Linked DNA regions of Homo sapiens. The protein of the gene in region 1 purifies or fractionates together with the protein of each later gene. This does not show direct contact. Each region holds a gene or a part of one and is shown in the gene's direction. Other genes may lie near its edges.

The links.
Region 2: the proteins of TAF7L (region 1) and KLHL21 purify together in Homo sapiens (co-immunoprecipitation; one large-scale study listed by IntAct). This does not show direct contact.
Region 3: the proteins of TAF7L (region 1) and KLRG2 purify together in Homo sapiens (co-immunoprecipitation; one large-scale study listed by IntAct). This does not show direct contact.
Region 4: the proteins of TAF7L (region 1) and PSME4 purify together in Homo sapiens (affinity purification with mass spectrometry; 2 studies listed by BioGRID and IntAct, with this or other methods). This does not show direct contact.
Region 5: the proteins of TAF7L (region 1) and ARK2N purify together in Homo sapiens (affinity purification with mass spectrometry; 2 studies listed by BioGRID and IntAct, with this or other methods). This does not show direct contact.
Region 6: the proteins of TAF7L (region 1) and TAF4B purify together in Homo sapiens (affinity purification with mass spectrometry; 2 studies listed by BioGRID and IntAct, with this or other methods). This does not show direct contact.
Region 7: the proteins of TAF7L (region 1) and TRIM58 purify together in Homo sapiens (co-immunoprecipitation; one large-scale study listed by IntAct). This does not show direct contact.

What each region holds. Positions count from the first base shown.
Region 1 is NC_000023.11:101,271,046-101,274,334, reverse strand, and holds part of TAF7L (transcription initiation factor TFIID subunit 7-like), read left to right. Parts: intron 1-3,289. UniProt on the Homo sapiens protein: Probably functions as a spermatogenesis-specific component of the DNA-binding general transcription factor complex TFIID, a multimeric protein complex that plays a central role in mediating promoter responses to various activators and repressors.
Region 2 is NC_000001.11:6,592,870-6,596,369, reverse strand, and holds part of KLHL21 (kelch-like protein 21), read left to right. Parts: intron 1-812; coding exon 813-885; intron 886-2,259; coding exon of another isoform or gene 2,260-2,262; exon of another isoform or gene 2,263-2,711; coding exon 2,712-3,005; 3' UTR 3,006-3,500. UniProt on the Homo sapiens protein: Substrate-specific adapter of a BCR (BTB-CUL3-RBX1) E3 ubiquitin-protein ligase complex required for efficient chromosome alignment and cytokinesis.
Region 3 is NC_000007.14:139,452,674-139,456,173, reverse strand, and holds the end of KLRG2 (killer cell lectin-like receptor subfamily G member 2), read left to right. Parts: intron 1-1,959; coding exon 1,960-2,063; intron 2,064-2,466; coding exon 2,467-2,587; 3' UTR 2,588-3,484; downstream 3,485-3,500.
Region 4 is NC_000002.12:53,890,994-53,894,493, reverse strand, and holds part of PSME4 (proteasome activator complex subunit 4), read left to right. Parts: intron 1-694; coding exon 695-820; intron 821-1,533; coding exon 1,534-1,686; intron 1,687-3,500. UniProt on the Homo sapiens protein: Associated component of the proteasome that specifically recognizes acetylated histones and promotes ATP- and ubiquitin-independent degradation of core histones during spermatogenesis and DNA damage response.
Region 5 is NC_000018.10:46,243,534-46,247,033, forward strand, and holds part of ARK2N (protein ARK2N), read left to right. Parts: intron 1-3,500. UniProt on the Homo sapiens protein: AMPK substrate important for exercise capacity and skeletal muscle function.
Region 6 is NC_000018.10:26,271,445-26,274,944, forward strand, and holds part of TAF4B (transcription initiation factor TFIID subunit 4B), read left to right. Parts: intron 1-3,218; coding exon 3,219-3,380; intron 3,381-3,486; coding exon 3,487-3,500. UniProt on the Homo sapiens protein: Cell type-specific subunit of the general transcription factor TFIID that may function as a gene-selective coactivator in certain cells.
Region 7 is NC_000001.11:247,874,187-247,877,412, forward strand, and holds part of TRIM58 (E3 ubiquitin-protein ligase TRIM58), read left to right. Parts: intron 1-1,713; coding exon 1,714-2,303; 3' UTR 2,304-3,226. UniProt on the Homo sapiens protein: E3 ubiquitin ligase induced during late erythropoiesis. Directly binds and ubiquitinates the intermediate chain of the microtubule motor dynein (DYNC1LI1/DYNC1LI2), stimulating the degradation of the dynein holoprotein complex.

The sequences.
Region 1 (3,289 bases):
GCTAAGGTGGGAGGATTGCTTGAGCCCAGGAGGTTGAGGCTGCAGTGAGCCATGATCACACCACTGCACTCCAGCTTGGGCAACAAAGTGAGCCCCTGTCTCAAAAAAAAAAAAAATTATAATGAAATGACATTGAACTAACAATGTTATTTGGAGACCTTTTGCATGTCATTTTGCTTAAAGTTGCAGTTTCTAAGAACCTATTGATGACATTAAGTGAGGACTTACTGTAACAAAACGACATTGGACAAAACGATGTTATTCAAGGACCTGCTGTACTTATCCTCGTGGAGCTGTCTAGCAGGGGAGATTGACAATAAACAAATTATACAAATATAAAGTTACAAATTGTGAAGAAGTGCTATGAAGGAAAAAAGTCAGTGGTGCTATTAGAATAAAGGGTCTTGAATTAATTGGGGGATCATGATAGACCTCTCCTAGGAGGTGCTATTGAAGCTGAGACCGGAAGGATTAAGTCCAGGCAAAGAGTGGGATGAGGAGCCTCTTAGGTGGAGCGTATGCAAGGTCTCATGCTCAGAAAGAACTTGGCTTCTTTGAGGACCTTTGGAGTATTTAAAGCCAGGAAGAGAATGGCTTAAGATAAGGTTGGAGAAGTAGGCAGAGACCATAGTGTATGGTTCCTTGAAGGCCATGATAAGGAGGATGGGTTTGGCCTTAAGTGTAATGTGAAGTCCTTGAAGAATTGTAGATAGGAAAATCACATCTAATTTAAACTTTTTTTTTTTTAAATGGAGTCTTGCTCTGTCGCCCAGGCTGGAGTGCAGTGGCACAATCTAGGCTCACTGCAACATCCGCCTCTCGGGTTCAAGAGATTGTCCTCCCTCAGCCTCCCAAGTAACTGGGACTACAGGCACGTGCCACCATGCCCGGCTAATTTTTTGTATTTTTAGTAGAGACAGGGTTTCACCGTGTTAGCGAGGATGGTCTTGATCTCCTGACCTCGTGATCCACCTGCCTTGGCCTCCCAAAGTGCTGGGATTACAGGCGTGAGCCACCACGTCTGGCCTAATTTAAACTTTTAAAAGGTTACTCTGATTATTATCTGGAGAATGGGTTGGAAGAAGGTGAGAGTAGAAGCAAAGAGGCTGGTTGGGGGGCTTTGTGGTACTCTAATAACAGAGGATGGTAACTTGGACTAAGTTAGTAGCAATGGAGATTGAAAGAATATAGATTTTTAAACTGCAATAAAAATGTTTTTATAACAGATGTAATTCATAAACCATACAATATCACCCATTTAGGCTGGGTGCGGTGGTGCGTGCCTGTAATCCTAGCGCTTTGGGAGGCCAAAGTGGGCAGATGGCTTCAGCCCAGGAGTTCGAGACCAGCCTGGGCAACATGGTGAAACCCCGTCTCTCCAAAAATTAGCCAGGCATGGTGGTGTATGCCTGTAGTCCCAGCTGCTCGGGAGGCTGAGGTGGGAGGATTGCTTGAGCCTGGGAGGCAGAGGTTGCAGTGAGCAGAGATCCCACCACTGCACTCCAGCCTGGGTGACAGAGTGAGACTGCCTCAAACCCCGTCCTCCCCACCCCCGACAAGTCACCCATTTAAACTATACAATTCAGTGGCTTTTAGCATATTCAGAGTTGTACAACCACCACTGCAGTCAATTTTAGAATAGTTTCATCACTCCAAAAAGAAACCCTGTATCCATTAGTAGTCACTCCCCACTTCTCCAGAACCTCTCCCCTGCCCAGCACTAGGCAACCACTCATCTAGTTTCTACTAATCTACTGCCTATTCTAGTTATTTCATACAAGTGAAATCATATAATACATGGTGTTTTGAGTCGGGCTCCTCTCATTTAGCATATTTTCAGGGTTCATCCATGTTATGGCATGTATCAGTACTTTTTTCCATTTAAAACTGACTAATACTCCATTGGATCAATATACCACATTTTGTTTATTCATTCATCTGCTGATGGACATTTGGGTTGCTTTCACTTTTGGCTATTATGAATAATGCTGCAATGAATATTGATATATTAGAGAATATACTTTAAAGGTAGAATTGACAGGAGTTGGGTCAATTACTGGGTGTTGAAGGAGAAGGAATCATTAAGGATGTATGTATTTCTAACTTGAACGACAACTGTATTTTTCAAAGCCACAAGAGAGTGTACAGGGCGAAGAGAGAAGAAGGCAATATAGGCTAAATGAGGGTCAAGCAGCTGTATAGAAAATGTGTGCTGACTCTAACCTTATACTGTTGAGGGTTACAATTTTAAAGAGACTGGAGTTGGTATTATGAGGATGGGCTTAGCATGGTGCTCTTGAAGTACAGGCACTACTCCCCACCCCCATCCCCACAAGGCTAGCGGAATTTTTATGTTCTATATATTCCCTTCCTCTCAGCAAATCACTTATCCAAGTACTGCTTAATACTGCTTTAAAACAATCAGATGAACAGTTAATGCCAGGATTGTTTTAGTACCCACCAAACATCTTTGTTTTCATCAATGTAAGTACAGTTGTATGCTGCATAACAACATTTTGGCCAATGACAGACTGCATATATGATGGTAGTCCCATAAGATTATAATGGAGCTAAGAAATTCCTGTCACCTGGTGACACTGTGGCCATCATAACATAGCAGCAGAATTACTTAATTTTTAAATTATTTTACTATAGCCTAAGTATATAGTGTTTATATAGTCTTCAGTAGTGCATAGTAATGTCCTAGGCCTTCACATTCACTCACCACTCACTCACTGACTCACCCACAGCAACTTCTAGTCCTGCAAGCTCTATTCATAGTAAGTGCCCTATATAAGTGTACCATTTTTAATTTTTTATATTGTATTTTTAGTTTACCTTTTCTATGTTTAGATACACAAATACTTAACATTGTGCTACAATTGCCTACAGTATTCAGTACAGTAATATGCTGTACAGGTTTGTAACCTAGGAACGATAGACTATACTATGTAGCCTAGGTGTGTAGTAAGCTATACTATCTAGGTTGGTGTAAGTATGTTCTATCATGTTCGCGTCATGACAAAATTGCCTAAGGATGCATTTCTTAGAACATATCCCCATTGTTAAGTAACACATGACTATATTTAGTATTGAGGAGCAGCATAGAAATGTAGCTGTAAACTTTATTTACTCAGAGTCCCTTATGTTAGTTCATTTATCCAAATTAGATTTAGTAGGTGTCTACTTTAAGCTAGGCTCTACAGGGAGCTATGATATGCTTATGATGTAGTCTCTGTCTTCATTTGGGGAGAAATTGGCAAGAGGGGTAGGGACTTAAAGGAATGAC
Region 2 (3,500 bases), on another chromosome or scaffold:
AATCTCCGCCTCCCGGGTTCAAGAGATTCTCCTGCCTCAGCCACCCGGGTTCAAGCGATTTTCCTACCTCAGCCTCCTGAGCAGCTGGTATTACAGGCACATGCCACCACACCTGGCTAATTTTTGTATTTTCACTAGAGACGGGGTTTCATCGTGTTGGCCAGACTGGTCTCGAACTCCTGACCTCAGGCACTCCACCAGCCTCGGCCTCCCAAAGTGCTGCATTACAGGCGTGAGCCACAGTGCCTGGCCTGCATCTTTGCTTTTCAAGGCTGTGCCTTTGAGCCTTTTACTGTGGGGATATAAAGGGTGTCAGATGAAGTTGAAGGGTCTTGACCCCAAAGTGAGGGGTACTTCAACATAGTAGTGAACAGGACAGGGTTGGGGGCTCATAGTGATATTGGGGACAGTGGCAAGGAGTGTTCCAGGGCCTGTGGGGATGCACAGTGGAGCAAGGAGGCTTCTTTAAGATCTCAAGGGAGCTACTGTAGGCTTGGGGGGTGGGGGACAGCCACCTTGGTACTGGGTGATGGGGAGGCACTGAATGGGCTTCAAGTACTCAAAAGCCTGATCTTCAGGTTTGGGAGTGAGAGTTCTGGCCCTGGAGCCCTGGCTGAGTGGGCACAGGGGGCTGAAATTGGCTCCTAAGAGCTGGGGATGGAGCCTACCTGGCAAGGGTGCTGCTGGATGGCATCAGAAAGATCCAGGTCACTGGAGGAGTCAGTGACCCAGGGGAGGACTCTGCTCCAGCCCTGCATGTGTGCACTTCCTCCTCGCTCTGAGCAGTTGTCCTCCTGCTGCCCCCTCCACAGGGATGACTCCGCTGAGGTGGACGTGTACAACCCGACGAGGAACGAATGGGACAAGATCCCGTCCATGAATCAGGTAAATTTTCAGGCGGGCCAGCATTGGAAGCACAGGCTGGTCCTGATTTTGCAACCCAAGTGTCATCGTGATGAGTGTTTGGGATCCACAGCCATGATGGGTGGGTCTCATCTCAATTAATAGAAGGCTGCTCTTACCCTTATTTTGCACTTAAGGCTCACTGAGACACAGATGTTAAGTAATACCCTATGATTACACAGCTTAGTACACATTTGAGCAGTGTTTATTGAGTATCTGCTGTGAGCCAGAGAGCAGAAGGAAGTGAGGGAGCAAGGCATACAGTCATCTGGGGACACCTGTTCCAGAGAGGGACAGCAGGTACAGAGGCCCTGCAGCAGGGCACCCTGGCGTGTTCTTAGATACACCAGCAGCCCATGTGGCCGGAGCAGAGTCAGCATGAGGTCTGTGACCTACCTTTTTTATTTTTGAGACAGGGTCTTGCTCTGTCACCCAGGCTGGAGTGCAGTGGTACAATCATGGCTCACTGCAGCCTCCACCTCCTTGACTCGCAGTCCTCCCACCGCACCTTCCTGAATAGCTGAGACTACAGGCGTGTGCCACCACACCCAGTAATTTTTTTTCTCATATGTAGATACAAAAGGATATTCTTAAAATTTTTATAGAGACAGGGTCTTGCTGTGTTACCCAGGCTGGTCTCACACTCCTGGCCTCAAGTGACCCTCCTGTCTCAGCCTCCCAAAGTGCTAGGATTATAGGCGTGAACCACCACGCCCAGCTGGTTCCTGAGGAAGTCAGTGTGGGAATACTTTTTTTTTTTTTATACGGAGTCTCGCTCTGTCACCCAGGCTGGAGTGCAGTGGCACGATCTCGGCTCACTGCAAGCTCCATCTCCCAGGTTCACGCCATTCTCCCGCCTCAACCTCCCGAGTAGCTGGGACTACAGGTACCCACCACCACGCCCAGCTAATTTTGTTTGTGTATTTTTAGTAGAGACGGGATTTCACTGTGTTAGCCAGGATGGTCTGGATCTCCTGACCTTGTGATCTGCCTGGCTCAGCCTCCCAAAGTGCTGGGATTACAGGCATGAGCCACCATGCCCAGCCCACTGTGGGAATACTTGTGTTGAGCACTTGCTGTGTGTTCTGAATAGGACAACCAGGGTCCACCCCTTCTCTCTGGGCTTGTTGAGAAGAGGGGTGCCCAGCCTGACAGTGATGGGACAGGGAGGCTTCAGTGCCATTTGGCCATGTGAGCAGTGTTAGTCTGAGGTACACATCATATTGCCTACAGCCTTCTTTCCTGTGTGTCTGTTAACATTTCCAAACCTACACTCCGTGACATCCAGCCTCACAGCTTACATCACAGCTTAATGTCCTGGCATTTAAGAGACCCAGCGTTCTGTTTTCCCCGCAGTAAGCTGCACATAGTCATAGCGAATTTGGGAAAGATGGAAGGAATCATCCAGCCTCGCGGTTCAGAGCCCAGCTCTGCCACTGTCAGCCATGCAAGCCTCAGTTTTCCCATCTGTAACATGGGGAGAACAGCACTGCTCAGCCCAGAGGGCCACTGCAGAGATTCTGAGAGAGAACGTAGGAAGCGCTGCTCGGCACGACCTGCACACGGGGAGGCCTGGCGCTGCAGCGGGCACCCTCATCACCATAGGGAAGGCCCAGCTGCCTCCGGGGAGGCCCGTTCTCCTAGGCAGGGTGTTGGAAAGGGGTTGGCCTCTCTGCTGCTTTCTGGGAGAGCCAAGGCCACCCCTCTGGGGTACTGACAGGGCATGCCTTGTCTCCAGTGGTTCCCCAGGTGGGGCCCTGCCCTACCCTCTCCTCTGACCTCCACTCACTCATCCCTTTGGCCCACAGGTACATGTGGGGGGCAGCCTGGCCGTCCTTGGGGGGAAGCTGTACGTCTCTGGGGGATACGACAATACATTTGAACTCTCGGACGTGGTAGAGGCCTATGACCCAGAGACTCGCGCGTGGAGCGTGGTGGGGCGGCTCCCAGAACCCACCTTCTGGCATGGCAGTGTCAGCATCTTCCGCCAGTTCATGCCCCAGACCTTCTCGGGTGGGCGTGGCTTCGAGTTGGACAGTGGCAGCGATGACATGGACCCAGGCCGACCCCGGCCGCCGCGGGACCCCGATGAGCTGCACTAGCCCCAGTCTGGCCCGGCACGGGCCTCGGTGCAGGTAACTGGCACCTCTGCGGGGCAGTGCCCCACTCCTTTGTGCACAAGGACACGTTGGGCTCACAGGAGGAGCACAGGCTCTTGGGTGGCGAAGCCAGCCCAGGATCCATTACCTGGAAGGTTTCTGTACCTTGAGAGCCTGAATCAGAGGCCGTCGGGAACGCCCTCCCTGCAGTTGAGGAAGAGCCACTTTCCTGCCAGCACATGTTTCTGGGTCTTGGAGGTCACCCCCACCCCGCGGATCACAGCTCACCCACGCGGCGCACACCCCTCCTGCCGTTGTCATCTGCACCTACTTGTTCCCACCTTGGGAGAGGACGATGACTTGGGAGGGACGCGTGAAGGGAGAAGGGGTCCTCCCATGAGGCTGAGGATGGCCTGAACCTGGAGCAGCGGACCAGGCAGACGGGCTGAAGTGGGGTCCCAAATTCCATGTCCAGAGGTGTGGGGAGCCTGCCTCCCT
Region 3 (3,500 bases), on another chromosome or scaffold:
GTTGACTTAAACCATTTTCTTAGGGAAGAAGAACTGAGCATATGCGAAATTCATTTATACCGCTCTGCTCCTAACCTGCCTCAGTGTGAATATGTGCTTCTTGACATTGTTGTGAGTGATATGTACTTGCTAGTGTAGTCTTTTTTTTTTTACATGGCATGATTTCATATTTACATTTTCCTGCATAATGACATTTTCTATACACTTGTCATTTTTAATAGCACTATAATTTTCCATCATGTTGACATCCTATAATTTACCTTGTTATTTCTTGATTGCTGAGCGTTTGGGGAGTTTCCAGTTTTTCTTCACAAATAGCACCGTGTTATCTTTAGATAAGTTCATTTTTTTCCCTTTATATTCTTGGATTTATTTCTCAGTGAAATCACCCATTTGAGCAGGAGTGGTGGTGCTGCTCTTGTCACATAGCACCAAACGACATTTCAGAAAGAACAAGCTGATGCGGGCCGTGCCGGCATCACTGCCCCCTCCACCACGTCCCCACCCTGGGACTTAAAAGATTTAAACTTTTTTTTCCAAGTTAAAAAATCTTGGCCGGGCGCGGTGGCTCACGCCTGTAATCCCAGCACTTTGAGAGGCCGAGGCAGGCGGATCACGAGGTCAGGAGATCGAGACCATCTTGGCTAACACGGTGAAACCCCATCTCTACTAAAAATACAAAAAATTAGCCAGGCATGGTGGCGGGTGCCTGTAGTCCCAGCTACTCGGGAGGCTGAGGCAGGAGAATGGCGTGAACCCAGGAGACAGAGCTTGCAGTGAGCCGAGATCGCGCCACTGCACTCCAGCCTGGGCAACAGAGCGAGACTCTGTCTCAAAAAAAAAAAAAAAAAATCTTGGCCGGGTACAGTGGCTCACACCACTAATTCTACACTTTGGGAGGCTAAAATGGACAGATCACTTGAGGCCAGGAGCTCAAGACCAGCCTAGGCCAACACGGCAAAACCCTTCCCTACTAAAAATACGAAAATTACCTGGGTGTGGTGGTGCATGCCTGTAGTTCCAGCCTCTCAGGAGGCTGAGGCGGGAGAATCGGTTGAACCTGAGAGGCGGAGGCTGCAGTGAGCCAGGATCGTGCCACTGCACTCCAGCCTGGGTGACAGAGCAAGGCTCCATCTCAAAAAAAAAAAAATCTTAAATATATACTTTAAAACATTGTCTTTTTTGCTTTAATTCATTGTTAAAAATAGTGTGACATTGAGGGCAAATATTTAAAAGAAAAAAGTCTCCTCTAGTACCTCTCCAGCACACTTACTTTGGTTTTTGTTGTTCCTGCACATCTGCGTGTGTTATTATTATTATTATTATTATTATTATTATTATTATTATTATTATTTTGAGATAGAATTTCCCTCTTGTCAGCCCAGGCTGGAATGCAGTGGCGCAATCTCGGCTTACTGCAACCTCTGTCTCCTGGGCTCAAGCGATTCTCCTGTTTCAGCCTCCCAAGTAGCTGGGATTACAGGCGCCCGCCACCATGCCCAGCTAATTTTTTTTTTTTTAATAGAAACGGGGTTTCACTATGTTGGACAGGCCGGTCTCGAACTCCTGGCCTCAGGTAATCTGCCAGCCTCGGCCTCCCAATGTGCTGGGATTACAGGCATGAGCCACCGTGCCTGACCACCTCCCTCGCTTTCTGAGCTTCCTTGTTTCTTTGCCCACTCAATGCCCACTGAGCATCACTTAGTGGTGTTTGGCGTTCACATCCCTTTGGCTGAGACGGGGTCACCCTCATTTTGGCCCCCAGCCCTGAGCACAGAACCTGGCACCCAGCAGGCATCCAATCCAGCTTTCAAGGTTTTTTTGTTCTGCAAGTGCTGGCTTGAGCAGATCCTTCTGGATTGGCCAGCTGGGATCCTGTGGAAGCCCCAGGGAATCCGTACGCCCCAGGCAAGCCACGCCAGTGTCCAGGGGAGTGACCAGCTTACTTTTCTCCCTCAGGACTTCCTGGGCAGATACCCAGTCTCCAGGCACTCCTGGGTGGGGGCCTGGCGAGGCCCCCAGGGCTGGCACTGGATCGACGAGGCCCCACTCCCGCCCCAGCTGTGAGTGACCACGGGCTTTTCTCCCTCCTCTGCTGTTCTGGATCCTCCATTTCTCCCCAGACTCCACCTCCTTGCTGCTCCCCTAGCCTGGAATGCCACTTGGAAAGCAGCCCACGCCCATGCTCGCGGCCTGGTGCCTGATTAGACCCTGTCGCTTCACTCTTTATTTGGGTTCCCAGCACGTTCACCCAAGCAGGGTTGTCACCCCCATTTTACAGATGCGGGGTCAGCTGCCCAGGGAGGTTTGGGGATTCATCCAGTGCCACGTGGCTGACCAGTGCAGTGACTCACTCAGTGCCCAGGCCGGTAGAGGTGACAGGCACACACGCTGGAGGGTCTGGCTGGGAAGCAAGGCCCCGGCACCCTAAACACCTCTCCTCTTTCCCCTCCCATCCTTTCCCAGACTCCCTGAGGACGGCGAGGACAATCTGGATATCAACTGTGGGGCCCTGGAGGAAGGCACGCTGGTGGCTGCAAACTGCAGCACTCCAAGACCCTGGGTCTGTGCCAAGGGGACCCAGTGATCTGGGCTCTGCCTGGTCCTCAGCCTGCCAGGCAGATGCAGCACCCCCTACAGGGGAGGCCAGTTGAGAGCTTGGGCAGCCTCTTCCTGGACCCAGTTATCCAGGTCTTCATGCTCTGCTCAAGGGGGCCACATGAGCGAGCCTAGGAGCTGGACTTCAACCCAGGAAGATGCATCCGAGGGAAAGGAGATTTTCTATGGCCTCAGGCCTGAGTGCCAATATTAGTCTCCAGCTTCTGTGGATGATCGGTTTGATGACATTGGGATGGTTGTTTAGCATTTCTGTGCCTTGGTTTCATTAAAATGACAATTTCCCCCTAGAGGAAAAAGACAGGGTTAACAACCACAGCGGATTCCAATCTGGGTTCTCATTCCGGCTCATGGAAATGAGTCTGCCGTTGTTCAGTGGCAGTGGGACTTGGCAGGGATAACGTCATTGCTGTGAATTCTACTTCAGGCAGCTGGGTGTACATCGGACACAGCCTACCGGCAGCCTCTGGAAAATTAACCAAGGAAAAGGAGCGGTCAGCCCTGGAAAGAGGGGAGAGCAAGGTTTTCCTTCCCCACCCTGAGAGTTGGCAAAGGGTTGGCAGACAGGAAGGTTCTGGGTGGAGATCCCGCATGTGGGCTGGCCAGCCCCTGGCACGCTGATGCCCAAGGGTGAGACAAGGCAGAGAGGACAGGGCCACCTGGCAGGAGAAGCCAGGAGAGCACCCCAGCTTGGTAGGTGGAAGCTGAGGAGTCTGAGTGAAAAAGGAAATCAGAGAAATGCAGGCACGTTCCAGGCAGCTCTTCTACCCACAGCTGCAGAGACGACCAACCTGAAGATGTCTCCATGCTGGGGTGCAGTGAAGACCTTCAGGCTGGAGGATGTGGCTGACAGAGTTGTGTAGTTCCTTGAGTCCAGCTAGACC
Region 4 (3,500 bases), on another chromosome or scaffold:
TTGAGACCATCCTGAGCAACATGGCAAAACCTTGTCTCTACAAAAAATACAAAAATCAGCTGGGCGTAGTGGTGCACACCTGTAGTCCCAGCTACTTGGGAGGCTAAGGTGGGAAAATTACCCGACCCGAGGAAGGCAAGACTGCAATGAGCCATGATCGCACCACTGCACTCCAGCCTGGATGACAGAGTGAGACCCTGTCCCAAAAAAAGAAAAGAAAAAAAAGAAAGTTGAGAAAGGGTTTTTAAGTTTATGTACTTGGTCCTTGAGTTAATGGTATTGTAACTTTTTCTGATTCTGAACAGTTTGCCTTTTAACTTCTGGTGTTAGGTAAATATGGAAGTGATTTGTTGGGGCTTGACTTATAGTTTTGGGGATTTTAACAAATTGCACACCAGGTGTTACAGTGGCTTTCAGTCTTCATTTCCCAAGCAGAACATTTGTTGATTTTTAATTCACAGTGTGAGAAATAGGATTCAAACTTGAGAATCTGAAGGAAAACTTCCTGTTTTAGCATTTTTAGAGGGAGGTACTTGGTTTTAGAAATCACTGTAGTCTATGAGAACTAAGAATTCATGGAAACAAAAATACAGCCTGCTTTTGACTATCAAAATCTTGTAATTTTAACTTTTTCAGAATCATGTATTTAAGTGGATTTTAAACGCTGAATATTGTTCTTTTTTTAACTTTATAGGCAGAACAGATTATATTTGATCATTTTTCTGATCCTAAATTTGTTGAGCAGTTAATTACTTTTCTATCATTAGAAGACAGAAAAGGAAAAGATAAGTTTAATCCACGACGTTTTTGCCTCTTTAAGGTAACTATATTGTTTACATATCCTCTTTGTAATGCTTAGTAACTATTCAGTTCGTAGGTTCATAACTTATAAATATTTGATCAAAGCTAGCCATCTGCCTTGATCTAAAATGGCACTGGAATTTACACTGAACATGTACAGACTTTTGTTGTCGTTATTCCCTAAACAAGACATTACAACCAGTATTGACATAGCATTAATATATAATACAATTAGTAAGCATTGTATTAGGTCCTAAAAGTACTCTTAAGATGATTTAAAATATACAGGAGGATGTATATAGGTTATATGCAAATACAATACCATTTTATGTCATGGACTTGAACATTTTGGTATTTTGGGGTGGGGATCTTGAAACCATTTCCCCACATACACCTAGGGATGACTGTATTTATCTTTAATGTTTGTTGTAATTGGCATTAGAAGGAAAAAAAATACCCAAAACTGCATGCGTTTTTTATGTTTAGTTGCTTTTTTTGAGGTGTGATACTTAGAGAGATTATTAATGTTTGTTTCATTGGTTACATTTTAATGTGATATTTAAAATGACAGTATTCTTACTATTTTAACTTACCGCAATTGTTAAAGCAGTTCTAAAGGGGAGTGTGCTTGGAGCTTTTAAGCACGTTAGTAATGTACAGAATAATTACAAGCATAATTATAATCGAGATGATAGTCATTTGAGTACTGAAGAACAGTCTTTGTTTTTATAGGGTATATTCAGGAATTTTGATGATGCCTTCCTGCCAGTTCTGAAGCCCCATTTAGAACATTTGGTTGCAGATTCACATGAAAGCACCCAGCGATGTGTTGCAGAAATTATAGCTGGTTTAATCAGAGGTTCTAAGCACTGGACATTTGAAAAGGTGATGTATTAATATTTGTACAGAACATTTCCTGTTAAAGCTATGTTACCCATTTTGGTGGCAATTCCCAACACATTAGATACTGATAATTAAAATATGAAATCTTCAGTGATATGAAATATGCCGATATGTAGACATTGCTTTTGATTACAGATTACAGCCTAATGGTCTCTAGGAACATTTACTATCTTTAAATTTTTGAAGTTTTTATCCACATTGGGGGAAAAAATTTAAAAAAAATTAAAAAAGAATTCCAGTTTCTTGAAAAAGAGGAAGATCCTGGAACACTGGTCCTACATTATTGCACTGTGTCACTCTGCTGATGGTGCACGTGTGCTTCTCCCTTCATTAAGCCATTCCAGCTTCTCATTAAGTCCTTTCTCTTAGCCTCCTTATCATTTATATTACTTGTCCAGTCTTTTAGACAGTTGGAGTTTGACTCTCCCTTTTAGAGTATCCCTCTTTTTAATTGTAAGATATAGTTTTCACACACCTGCCTTTAAGGTTAGTTCATTAGCAAAATACACGAGACTAAAAATAACCTGGTCAAATGTCAGGACCACCTGAGCATAAGGTAGACCACTATTTTGTCGAAGAGATGACACAAATAGGGTTTTTTGGTCACCTTTTAGGAGGACTGCAAACACTTTTGCCTACAAGAAACAATTTTATTTTAAAATGTCACATGTATTCTTGTCATCCGTTACATTACTAAAGCCACTCTTGAGTTACCTGTTTTGCAAAACATAATTCCTATCCCTATATGTTCTTTGAGATAAAGCTTTTTTTGATAAAATCAAAACAGTGCTGCCACTGGAAATTTTGTCTCAAACCCTTCCTGCTGATTGAAGAATTCCTTCCTTCCTTCCTTCCTTCCATCTGTCCTTCCGTCTGTCCATCCATCCGTCCATCTTCCTTGTCTGTCTGTCTTCTCTTTTTTTTTTTTTTTGGACAGTCTTACTCTATCGCCCTATCGCCCAGGCTGGAGTACAGTAGTGTGATCATTGCTCACTGCAACCTCTGCTCCCTGGGTTCAAGCAATGCCTCAGCCACCTTCAGTAGCTGGGATTACAGGCATGCGCCACCTTGTCAGGCTAATTTTTGTATTTTTAATAGAGGCAGGGTTTCTCCATGTGGCCAGGCTGGTCTCGAACTCCTGGCTCTTGAACTCCACCTACCTTGGCCTCCCAAAGTGCTGGGATTACAGGTGTGAGCTACTGTGCCTGGCCTTCATTCATTCTTTTAAAAAAAAAAATTCAAAATTTTTTTAGGAACTTAAAAAATTAATAATAGTAACTGTTCATGTTTATGGGGTACATGTGATATTTTGATACATGCACACAATGTGTAATGATGAAATCAAGGTATATCCTTTTTAACTAAAATACAGTCCATGGACCTGCAGCAGGGGTAGCACTTGGAAGCTTTTTAGGAAAGTAAGATCTCAGGCCCACTTGACATGAATCAATCTGCATTTTATCAAGACCTCAAGGTGATTTGTATGCTCATTAACCTATGAGAAAATCTATGTGTGTAAATGCAGTCTCTGTACGACGTACATGTTTTTATGGGCTATTTATCCAAGACTTGGAATTTGAAGATTATATCTCAGGCTGATTACTAAATTAAATTAAAATGTCATTGCCTCTTTAAGGTTTAATCAAATGATCTTGATAAACATGGAAAACTTGATTGAGGTTTTGTTTCAGCCTAGCGTACTATTATACAAGATTTTTAAGAACACATCAGTCATATGAGAGATTTGTTTTGTTTTGTTTTTTTAGACGGAGTCTTGCTCCGTTGCTTAGGCTGGA
Region 5 (3,500 bases), on another chromosome or scaffold:
TTAGTTTTAGTTTTAACCTAGGCAAAAGACTTGAACCACATGCAGGGATTAAAAAGTAAGTCGAAATTAGAGAAGCTACTGATCAACAAAAGACCTGAATTTTCCATTTCAATTCTTGCCATGTGTTTGCTTTTTTTAAGTTGATGCTGGAATTGAACACTGTAGTGGGTGATTTTGAACCAGTGGCCACTTAGAAACTGCATGTCCTCAGGTAAATTATATAAAGCCTCAGTTTTCCCTATCTACAAAACTGGGGCACAACCTTTATAGTATCTACTCCAAAAGGTTATTGTTACCACTAAGTGAAATACAGTGTGTTTACTACGGAGGACAGCACATAGTAGGCCCTCAGAAATGCTAACCAGCATTATGTTAATATGCTGAAGTAGACTGAGTAAGGAAGTGATTAGTGGCTCAGTCACTGGATTTCTAATTACTCTCTTGCACTGCAACGAGTTGCTCTTGCTACAAGTACTTCTTAAATTTTGCCAGAGCGTAGAAATTACCCAGTGTGTTTATAAATATTCACACTCCTAGGTTTCTCCTGATGATTCTGTCAATAAATCTGAAATGGTTTCTGGGAATCTCTTTTTAATAATAGCCTCAGGTAACTCTTGTATCCAGCATGTTTAGGAAACTGTATTAATATATCTGAAAATGGCTTCATTTTTGTTGCTAGTAAGGGCTCACTGCAAACAAATGTAGTTGGGGCAAGAAGAAGCAGAAGTCTTGGTGAGGAAGGCTTATAGCTGTGGTAAACTGAACTTATTTAGGATTTTTTTCCCTGGGAAGTTAAAACTTTAAATACCTTATCTTTTCCATCAGCCTTCTTGTCAAGAAGGTAGGTTCTGAGCATTTTCCCCATCCTTACAATAGGGATGGTAATCTTGATTTGTCCCTAACATGGTGGCAGTACAGAGAAATGAATCCTGGGTTTCCTGTTCCTAGTGTAGGGTTTTTAATAATTAGACCAGAATGGCCATGTTTCAGAATCAGTATAGTGAAGGAGATGAAGTATGGTCATGTTCTTCATGTTTATCTGCATCAAATTGATGGTAAGAGTTTAGATTTTTTTTTTTTTTTTTTTTTAAGAGGGAGTCTCCAGTCACCCAGGCTGGAGTACAATGGCACATTCTGGGCTCACTGCAACCTCTGCCTCCCGGGTTCAAGTAATTTTCGTGCCTCAGCCTCACAAGTAGCTGGGATTACAGGTGTGTGCCACTGCGCCTGGCTAATTTTTGTATTTTTAGTAGAGACAGGGTTTACCATGTTGGCCAGACTGGTCTCGAATTCCTGACCTCCAGTGATCCGCCTGTCTTGGCCTCCCGAAGTGCTAAGATTACAGGCATGAGCCACCACACCCAGCCAGATTTTAGATTTTTGAGCTCTTCCTTCACTCTTTTTTGTTGTTGTTGTTGGAGATGGATTCCAGCTCTGTCGCTCAGGCTGGATGCGGTGGCAGTCTCCGCTCATTGCAGCATCTGCCTCCTCGTTCAAGTGATTCTCCTGCCTCAGCCTATCCAGTAGCTGGGATTACAGGTACCCGTCACCACGCCCCGTTAATTTTTTTATATTTTTAGTAGAGATGGGGTTTCACCATGATGGCCAGGCTGGTCTTGCCCTCCTGATCTCAAGTAATCTGCCCACTTCTGCATCTCAAAGTGCTGGAATTTCAGGCGTGAGCTACCATGTCCAGCCCTCTTCCTTCACTTTTTAAGGTTGTTTAACGTGCTGTTTAAGGAACTAAAAGTAGGCTGGGTGCTGTGGCTCACGCCTATAATCCTGGCATTTTGGGAGTCCGAGGTGGGCAGATCACGAGGTCAGGAGTTCGAGACCAGCCTGTCCAATATGGTGAAACCCCATCTATACTAAAAAAAATACAAAAATTAGCTGGGCACGGTGGCGTGGGCTCCTGTAGTCGCAGCTACTTGGGAGGCTGAGGCAGGAGAATTGCTTGATCCCGGCAGGTGGAGGTTGCAGTGAGCCGAGATTGCACCACCTCTCTCCAGCCTGGGTGACAGAGTGAGACTCTGTCTCAATAAAAAAAAAAAAAAAGAAAGAAAAAAAGAACTAAAAGTAGTAATTTGCTGTTTTTAAAGCTAAATGAGTAGTGACTTATTTTTTTATTTTTTTTATGCCTAGCATGCGACTGTCATACAGTATGTAGTATTACTTTCTCTTCAGTGTGTTGCAAAGCTCAGGCCTAGTTCTTACCCAGTGGATTTACAGTTTAAAAAGTAGCTGGATTATTTCCTTTAAAGACAGAAAGAAACTGTTTTCCATGATAATTTAGTTACTACTTTTTCTGTGCTTCTTTTTCTTACCCTATTTTGATAACTACCTTTTCTTGGTAACTTTTTCTTACCCTTTCTTGTTGAAAAGGTCTGTAGTGGGAGGACAAAATTTAGAATTTTCTCATATAGTGAAAGAAGTTATCTTTCCAAAGACCTACACAGGCAGAGACCTACACAGAGACAGCCAGCTGTCACAATAGCTAAATATAAGTGCTCTGCTTTATTTTCAGTTTAATATATGGTAATTGCGGTATTTACATTTTTCTCTACAGGGCTTGTTCTTGTCTTAGAACTGGAAAAGATTACTACCACTGACAGTATTTGAAGAACCTCATAGCATCTTTGGCTCACTTTTCTGTATGCTTTAGGCACTGTTCTGCCATTGGAATCCTGTGAAGTCCTCCATGGGGGGTGAGGCGGGGTGGGGAGGGGCAGAGCAGAAAAGGCCCAAAGGCCAGAGAATGTCAGGTTCTATACTGGAGCTCCCAAAGGAATGTGTGGGATGCTGAAGAGGGTTACAGTGACAGAAAAGGACTAATGGTCCTGGCTCTGAAATAGAAGAAGGAAGAGGCAGAGGCATCCCAGAATGCCTTTGGTGTCTCTTGTAGAGCACGGCATCTCATTGCCTTGGTGTGGGTCCTAGCTGATTTGTTTTCTGTGTGGCACAATTTATCTAAGGCTCTGACAGGAAATTTGGCAAATGTCTCACACTATTAGTCTAGGAGTTGTTAACATTCACGAGGCAGTCTGTATTTAGCACCCCCATCACTTTCTCATGCCTCTTATCTTGCACTAGTATATTGACCAAGCATTACAGATAAGAGCAGACCCTAGGCTAGGCGCGGAGGCTCACACCTGTAATCCCAGCACTTTGGGAGGCCGAGGCGGGTAGATTACCTGAGGTCAGGAGTTCGAGACCAGCCTTACCAACATGGCCAAACCCCGTCTCTACTAAAATACAAAATTAGCCTGGCGTGGTGGTGCATGCCTGTAATCCCACCTACTCAGGAGGCTGAGGTGGGAGAATCGCTTGAACCCGGGAGGTGGAGGTTGCAGTGAGCTGAGATCACATCTTTGCACTCCAGCCTGAGCAACAAGAGCAAAACTCCATTTCAAAAAAAAAAAAAAAAATAGCAGACCCCAATTTAAAGTGACCAGTTTTAGCATATCATCTGGGTTTTGTAACCATGTTAAATACCAGCAGGT
Region 6 (3,500 bases), on another chromosome or scaffold:
AATTTCCATACAACTCATTTTATTGGCTCTGTGTAGAATTGGTTTTCACACATTTATTTCACATATACTTCAGTCCGTTTTCCTCCTGTCCTCAAGACATGCCTAGTCAGTCAGTGCAGCCTTGAAAAGCATTGAAGTTACCATTGGCTGGTCTGTTGAGTCAAAGGCGGAGTTGTGATTGAGTTTAAGACACTTTGGGCCAGGCATGGTGAGTCACACCTGTAATCCCAGCACTTTGGGAGGCCTAGGCAGGTGGATCACCTGAGGTCAGGAGTTTGAGACCAGCTTGGCCAACATGTTGAAACCCTGTCTCTACTAAACATTCAAAAATGAGCCGGGTGGTGTGGTGGGGGGCGGCTCTCATCCCAGCTACTCAGGAGGCTGAGGCAGGAGAATCACTTGAACCCAGGAGGCGGAGATTGCAGTGAGCCGAGATCGCACCACTGCACTCCAGCCTGGTGGACAGAGCCAGACTCCGTCTCAAAAAAAAAAAAAAAAAGACACTTTTAAGGGTGAGGGGGAATGGAATTTATTAGGCGAAAAGAAAAAAAAAACTCAGCAAAGCCAGAGGGGTTCCCGTTAGCAGGCCCCCATCTCACAAATTGAATCTCGGGTCACCACACAGGAACAGGAGAGGCCAGGCTCCTCCCCCTTGCAAAGGGCCTGATCTTCCTGAGGCTCCACCCCTCCTCCTCCCAGTGGGCAGGCGCGTGGGGGATTCTTCTGGAACCTTTCCCCTAATCTTCCGGTTGCGTCTATCAAGATCATCAGGCATTAGATTCTCACGAGGAGAGTGCAGCTTAAATCACCTGCATGTGCAGTTCACGAGAAGGTTCATGCTGCTATGAGACTAATGGCACCGCTGGCCTGACAGGAGGCAAAGCTCAGGCAGTAATGCTCACTTGCCTCCTCTGTGTGTCTCTATTCCTGACAGGCCACAGACCTATACCCGCCCGCGGCACAGGGGTTGGGGACCCCTGTGGTAAGATACAAGTAGTAGCTATACTAGAAAGTGTTATGAAGGACAGATTTTTTTTTTACTGGAGACAGGATAAAACATTGACAAGGAAAATAGAATTCCATAAATGCCCCCTCTACTTGTAAACGATAGGACGTTTTTCCTAAACTCACATTTCAGTTGGACCTTAGTTTGCTTCCTGAGGGAGGGGGACAGTACACCCCCAAGGAACCTCTCCCATCAGTCCTCAGAGGTGATCATAACCACCAGCTAAAATTCCAGATTACACTTTCTTAAATATGGCAGTACAGAGAGTTAATGACTGATTATAAGATAGACTAAAGAAAGAGGCTTATTTACTGTATAGAAAACTAAAAATTTATTAGAAAATCTCCACAAGAATTCAGAAGAAACTGAGTGGTAGGTTGGAGAGCAGGACTAAAGATATGAAAAGGAGGGAGACTTCCTTTTGAATGTGCATTTGAGGCTCTATATTTAACAAAATTGTACTAACTTAGGTGTAATTTTTAATTTTATCTCTTTTGTTAAAAACTTTATTGTTCTAGTCCTCATCATTAATCAGTAATTTTAAAATCTTATTAAAGTTTTTGCCAGGTGAGCCTTTAGTTTACTTTTCTTTTATTATCCTTATTCAATATTGAAATATGTTACAGACCTTTCTCATAAAATGAACTGAACAGCTTTCCCTATTCTGTTTTTCTAGAACATGTTGTATAAGACAGGAGTTATGCAAAAGTGTGGAAAAATCACATGGAAAATATCTGAGCCTGGAGACTTGAGGGAGGGAGGTCTTTTTGGGTATCATTTCAATGTCTTTAATTTGTCTATTCTAGTTTCTGTGTTTTGTGCTAATTTTGTCATTTCATGTTTTTCCAAAAACCCTTTTGGTTTTGTTTCAAATGTATTAGCATATGGTATTTAATATTTTTATTATGCATTATGAAATATACATGCAAACAAGACTACATGTGATATGTACACATATGTAATATGTACACATATGTAATATGTCTGCTGTTGAAAAAAATAATAGTAAAATGAAGGCCCATATACCCCAAACCCATGTTAGGGCCACCATGTGTCCCCACTCCTCTCCTTCTATCAATTCTCAGCATTTTAAATGTTCTTCCTGTTTGTAAAGAAAATTTTTTTCTAGAGACAGGGTCTTGTTAGGTTACCCAGACTGGTCTCGAACTCCTGTCCTCAAGCAATCCTCCTGGCTCAGCCTTCCAAAGTGCTGGTATTGTAAGTGTGAGCCACTGCACTTGTCCTTCTTCCCATTTTTTACCCTCAGAACATTCTTGTCTAGTACATATTCCAGTCTCTCTAATGTGGGAGATTTTATTGTACATTCAAATTCACCTATCTTGACTATTATAGAAGGAAATTTTCTTGAAGGTGATTGCAACTTGACCTTTTTGTGTTGCATGCTTGTAGAACATAGACATTTAAATTAAATGATGGTGCATTGTTCAGTTTTCTGTGTGAATTGTATGTAAATACTATTCCTTATCCCTGATCCCCAAACTTTTATTATGTTCTGTAACTTTTAGTGTTTGTCTTTAAGATTGTTGCTTTATCTCAATGTGATTTTCTAAATTACTGCCTGACTTGTGATTGCTTGTATGAGGTTTTTGTCCTGTAGGTGATGCTAGCTAGAGTCACACCTCATTTTGATAGAAGGTAGAGAAACAACTGAAATTCTTTTCAGTGTGAATATAAGATACCACGTTTTATAATATTCTTCATGCTTACTTTAATGGTCTACATAAAAGCAGTTTATCTAAATTTTAGATAATAAGTAGATTGCTCTGCTTTGTTCTTAAGAAAAAGCAGAATATTCTATGTTCTCATAAAGACTTTCAGATACTTCTTGGAGTATTAATAATATTTTTTGAGGACTTATTTGCTTTAGCACTGTTTTTCACAAAAAATCCTAGGACAGCAGGTACCGTTGCAATCCCTATTTTTGCAGAGAGTAATCAGGATTAGCAAGATTAAGTAACTTGCCTGCAGTCAACACTTGGTAGGTGGTAATGAAATAGTAGATGGGGTGAGAATGAAACCCAGATCTGCTAGACTCAAGAGTTCCTAGAACTGTATTATATTGCCTTAGACTACTAGAGCATAACATAAAACCACAGATGTCAAAATTAACTTGTCTGATGAGTGTGAAATGAGGCACCCACTAATGTATCATAGTAATACATGCCTAAATATTTAATACCTTTAATTTCAGTCTGTGGCTGTGCCAACCAGTGTCGTCACAGTTACTCCTGGAAAGCCATTGAATACTGTAACTACCCTGAAGCCTTCAAGTTTGGGAGCATCATCCACTCCTTCAAATGAGCCCAATCTTAAAGCAGAGAACTCAGCAGCTGTTCAGATTAATCTTTCTCCGGTAAGCTCTTACTTGCACCTTACATAAATCTTGTTCCTTGCAAGTTCTTTTGAATTGTTTGCTCACTAACACTTGTGTTTGCTTATATTTACATTTTCATATTTAGACAATGCTAGAAAA
Region 7 (3,226 bases), on another chromosome or scaffold:
CTGTAGGCTGTACAGGAGTCATGGTGCTGGCACCTGTTTCTGGTGAGGCCTCAGGACACCTACAGTCATGGTGGAAAGCAAAGGAGGAGCCAGCGTATCACATGGCAAGAGGGAAGCAGTGAAGTGGGGAGGCCCCAGGTTCCTCTTAAACGACCAGCTCTTGCATGAACGGATAAAGAACTCACTTATCACCAGTGGGATGGCACTAAGTCATTCATGGGGGATCTGCACCCATGATCCAGCACCCCCCACTAGGCCCCACCTTCAACATTGGGAATCACATTTCAACATGAGACCGGGAGGCGATACACATCCAAACCATATTATTTATTAACTTACTACTTATAAGCAATGCTAATAAGGAAATGCACTGAATATTTTACATCCCCCCTTCACTGAGGTTTCATATCTAGATGTATTTATTTATTATGTATATGGGTCAAATGTCTCATCAATCTCACTGGGACTTCAGAGTATCAGTATTTTTTATTGTTATATAACGCATAACTACAAGCTTATGTGCTTAAAGCCATACCATTTAGTAGCTCATGGTTCTGAAGACCAGACATCCAAGTGGGATCAGCTGGCTCCTCTGCTTAGGTTTTCTCAAGGCCCAAATATGGGTGTTGGCCAGGCCAGGCCAGGCTTCTGTGTAGGTCGGGGGAAGAACCTTACCTCCAACCTTATTCAGGTTGTTGGCATAATACAATTCTGTGCAAATGCGGTACTGAGATTCCTGTTTTCTTGCTGGCTGTTGGTTGGGGGCTATTCTCAGCTCTGGAGATCACTCTCAGCTCTAGAGGTCACTCGTTTGTCTCTTCATGTGACCTTTCCATTTTCAAAGCCAGCAAAGAGATATCAAATCCACATCTTATTGACCTTTCCTGCTGCCACCAACCCAATAGCCAGAGAAAACTTTCTGATTTTACAGGACTTGTGGGATTTGATTAGACGCACCTTGATAATCTCTCTCTTGTCATATAGTGTAACATACTCATGAGGCTAACACCAGGGTGTGAAGGTCATGGGGTCCATCTTAGAATTCCGCCTACCACAGTAATATAACTTTGGAAGTAGTGGATTTAATATTAATAAAATTCTATAGATTTTTAAGAAAAAAATTCCTAAGGGGTTTATAAATTTTATGTTAAATGCAGAAGATCCTCCTAAGTGCACTCAAATGCTTTGGATGTAAGCCAGACATGGTGGTGTGCACCTGTAGTCCCAGCTGCTGGGGAGGCAGACACGGGAGGATTGCTTGAGTCCAGGAGTTTGAGGCTGTAGTGTACCACGGCTATGCCCATGAATAGCTCTGCACTCCAGCCTGGGCAACATAGCAAGACCCCGTCTCTCTGTCTCTCTCTCTCTCTCTCACGCACACACACACACACAAATGCTTTAGATGTAAATGAAAGGAAACTAAATGATAATTCACTTGGTTTGTCGTCATCAATAGTTGTTTTTTTTTGGGAAAGTTAAAGAGTTCTGGGTTACGCAGAGGTAACAGTGGAATATACCAGAAAGTTATAAAGAATAAGAATAATAAAGTAATAAAGAAGATTTCACCTGTAAGGTGAAATACTGATTTGTTTTCTCTAGGAGTTAATAGAGAGAGAAAAGTGAGGAACTGTGGGACTATTCTTTTCAGTGGTTTCCTAAGTTTCTACCAGTCCTTTCTTTCCTTTCACCTGGTCCACCACATTCTTTCCGCAGTGGATGTAAAGCTGGATCCCGCCACGGCGCACCCGAGTCTGCTCTTGACCGCCGACCTGCGCAGTGTGCAGGATGGAGAACCATGGAGGGATGTCCCCAACAACCCTGAGCGATTTGACACATGGCCCTGCATCCTGGGTTTGCAGAGCTTCTCATCAGGGAGGCATTACTGGGAGGTTCTGGTGGGAGAAGGAGCAGAGTGGGGTTTAGGGGTCTGTCAAGACACACTGCCAAGAAAGGGGGAAACCACGCCATCTCCTGAGAATGGGGTCTGGGCCCTGTGGCTGCTGAAAGGGAATGAGTACATGGTCCTTGCCTCCCCATCAGTGCCTCTTCTCCAACTGGAAAGTCCTCGCTGCATTGGGATTTTCTTGGACTATGAAGCCGGTGAAATTTCATTCTACAATGTCACAGATGGATCTTATATCTACACATTCAACCAACTCTTCTCTGGTCTTCTTCGGCCTTACTTTTTCATCTGTGATGCAACTCCTCTTATCTTGCCACCCACAACAATAGCAGGGTCAGGAAATTGGGCATCCAGGGATCATTTAGATCCTGCTTCTGATGTAAGAGATGATCATCTCTAAAATTCTGTTCCCAAGATGCAGTCCTAGCGTAGCGAACGTTCCTGGAGTGGGGTGAAGGATATCAATATACTAAGTTTTAACAGATACCCCATTTAGGTCAGCACTTGATTCGTTGTTGCTGTGAAATATGTCCATGGGACAAAAGAGGGAATATGAAATATTTGCATATGGGAAGATTATAGAGCATAATAATTTTGTAAATGGAGCAATCTCAACCTCTATTTCTAGATCACATTTTCTTGATGTCTTCCTTCAAATTAATGACCTTGGATTACATAAGGATTTCTATGCATTCATTATAATTTGTTATTCCTTTCAATATCCTTGTATTTCAAATCTTCCATATAAGAATTAGACATGGCAATTCTTAAATTGATTCAGAATGGTCTGATACTATTCCAGTATCACCTCCTTAATTCTGTTTCTCCTCGTTTTCCTGATTTTCCTTCTCATTCTCTCCTTCCCCGCTCTGTCTCTCTCTCCCTGTCACTCTCTCTCTCTTGTTCCTTATTTTTTGTTTCTTACCTCTTACTGTTTAACCTGTTGCTTCCTTCTGGATTAATACATTTAGAGCCATTCCTTTATATGGTCACATTTCCTATGACTTTACTCAATTACTTTTAAAATCCTTTCTATTCTGAGACTAATTTTTAAGAATTACAAAGCTCATTCTTCTGAATCTAATATCACTAACTCCTAGACTTTTTCCGTTTTCTTTGGATACACTTTAAGTAGGAATTTATCAGAATTTTCATTCAACTCGTTCTTTAATGCAGATATTTACTAGTTATAAGACCTTAAGGCTGGGTGCAGTGGCTCACGCCTGTAATCCCAGCACTTTGGGAGGCTGAGGCGGGTGGATCACAAGCTCAGGAGTTCAAGACCAGCCTGGCCAACATGGTGAAACCCTGTCTCTACTAAAA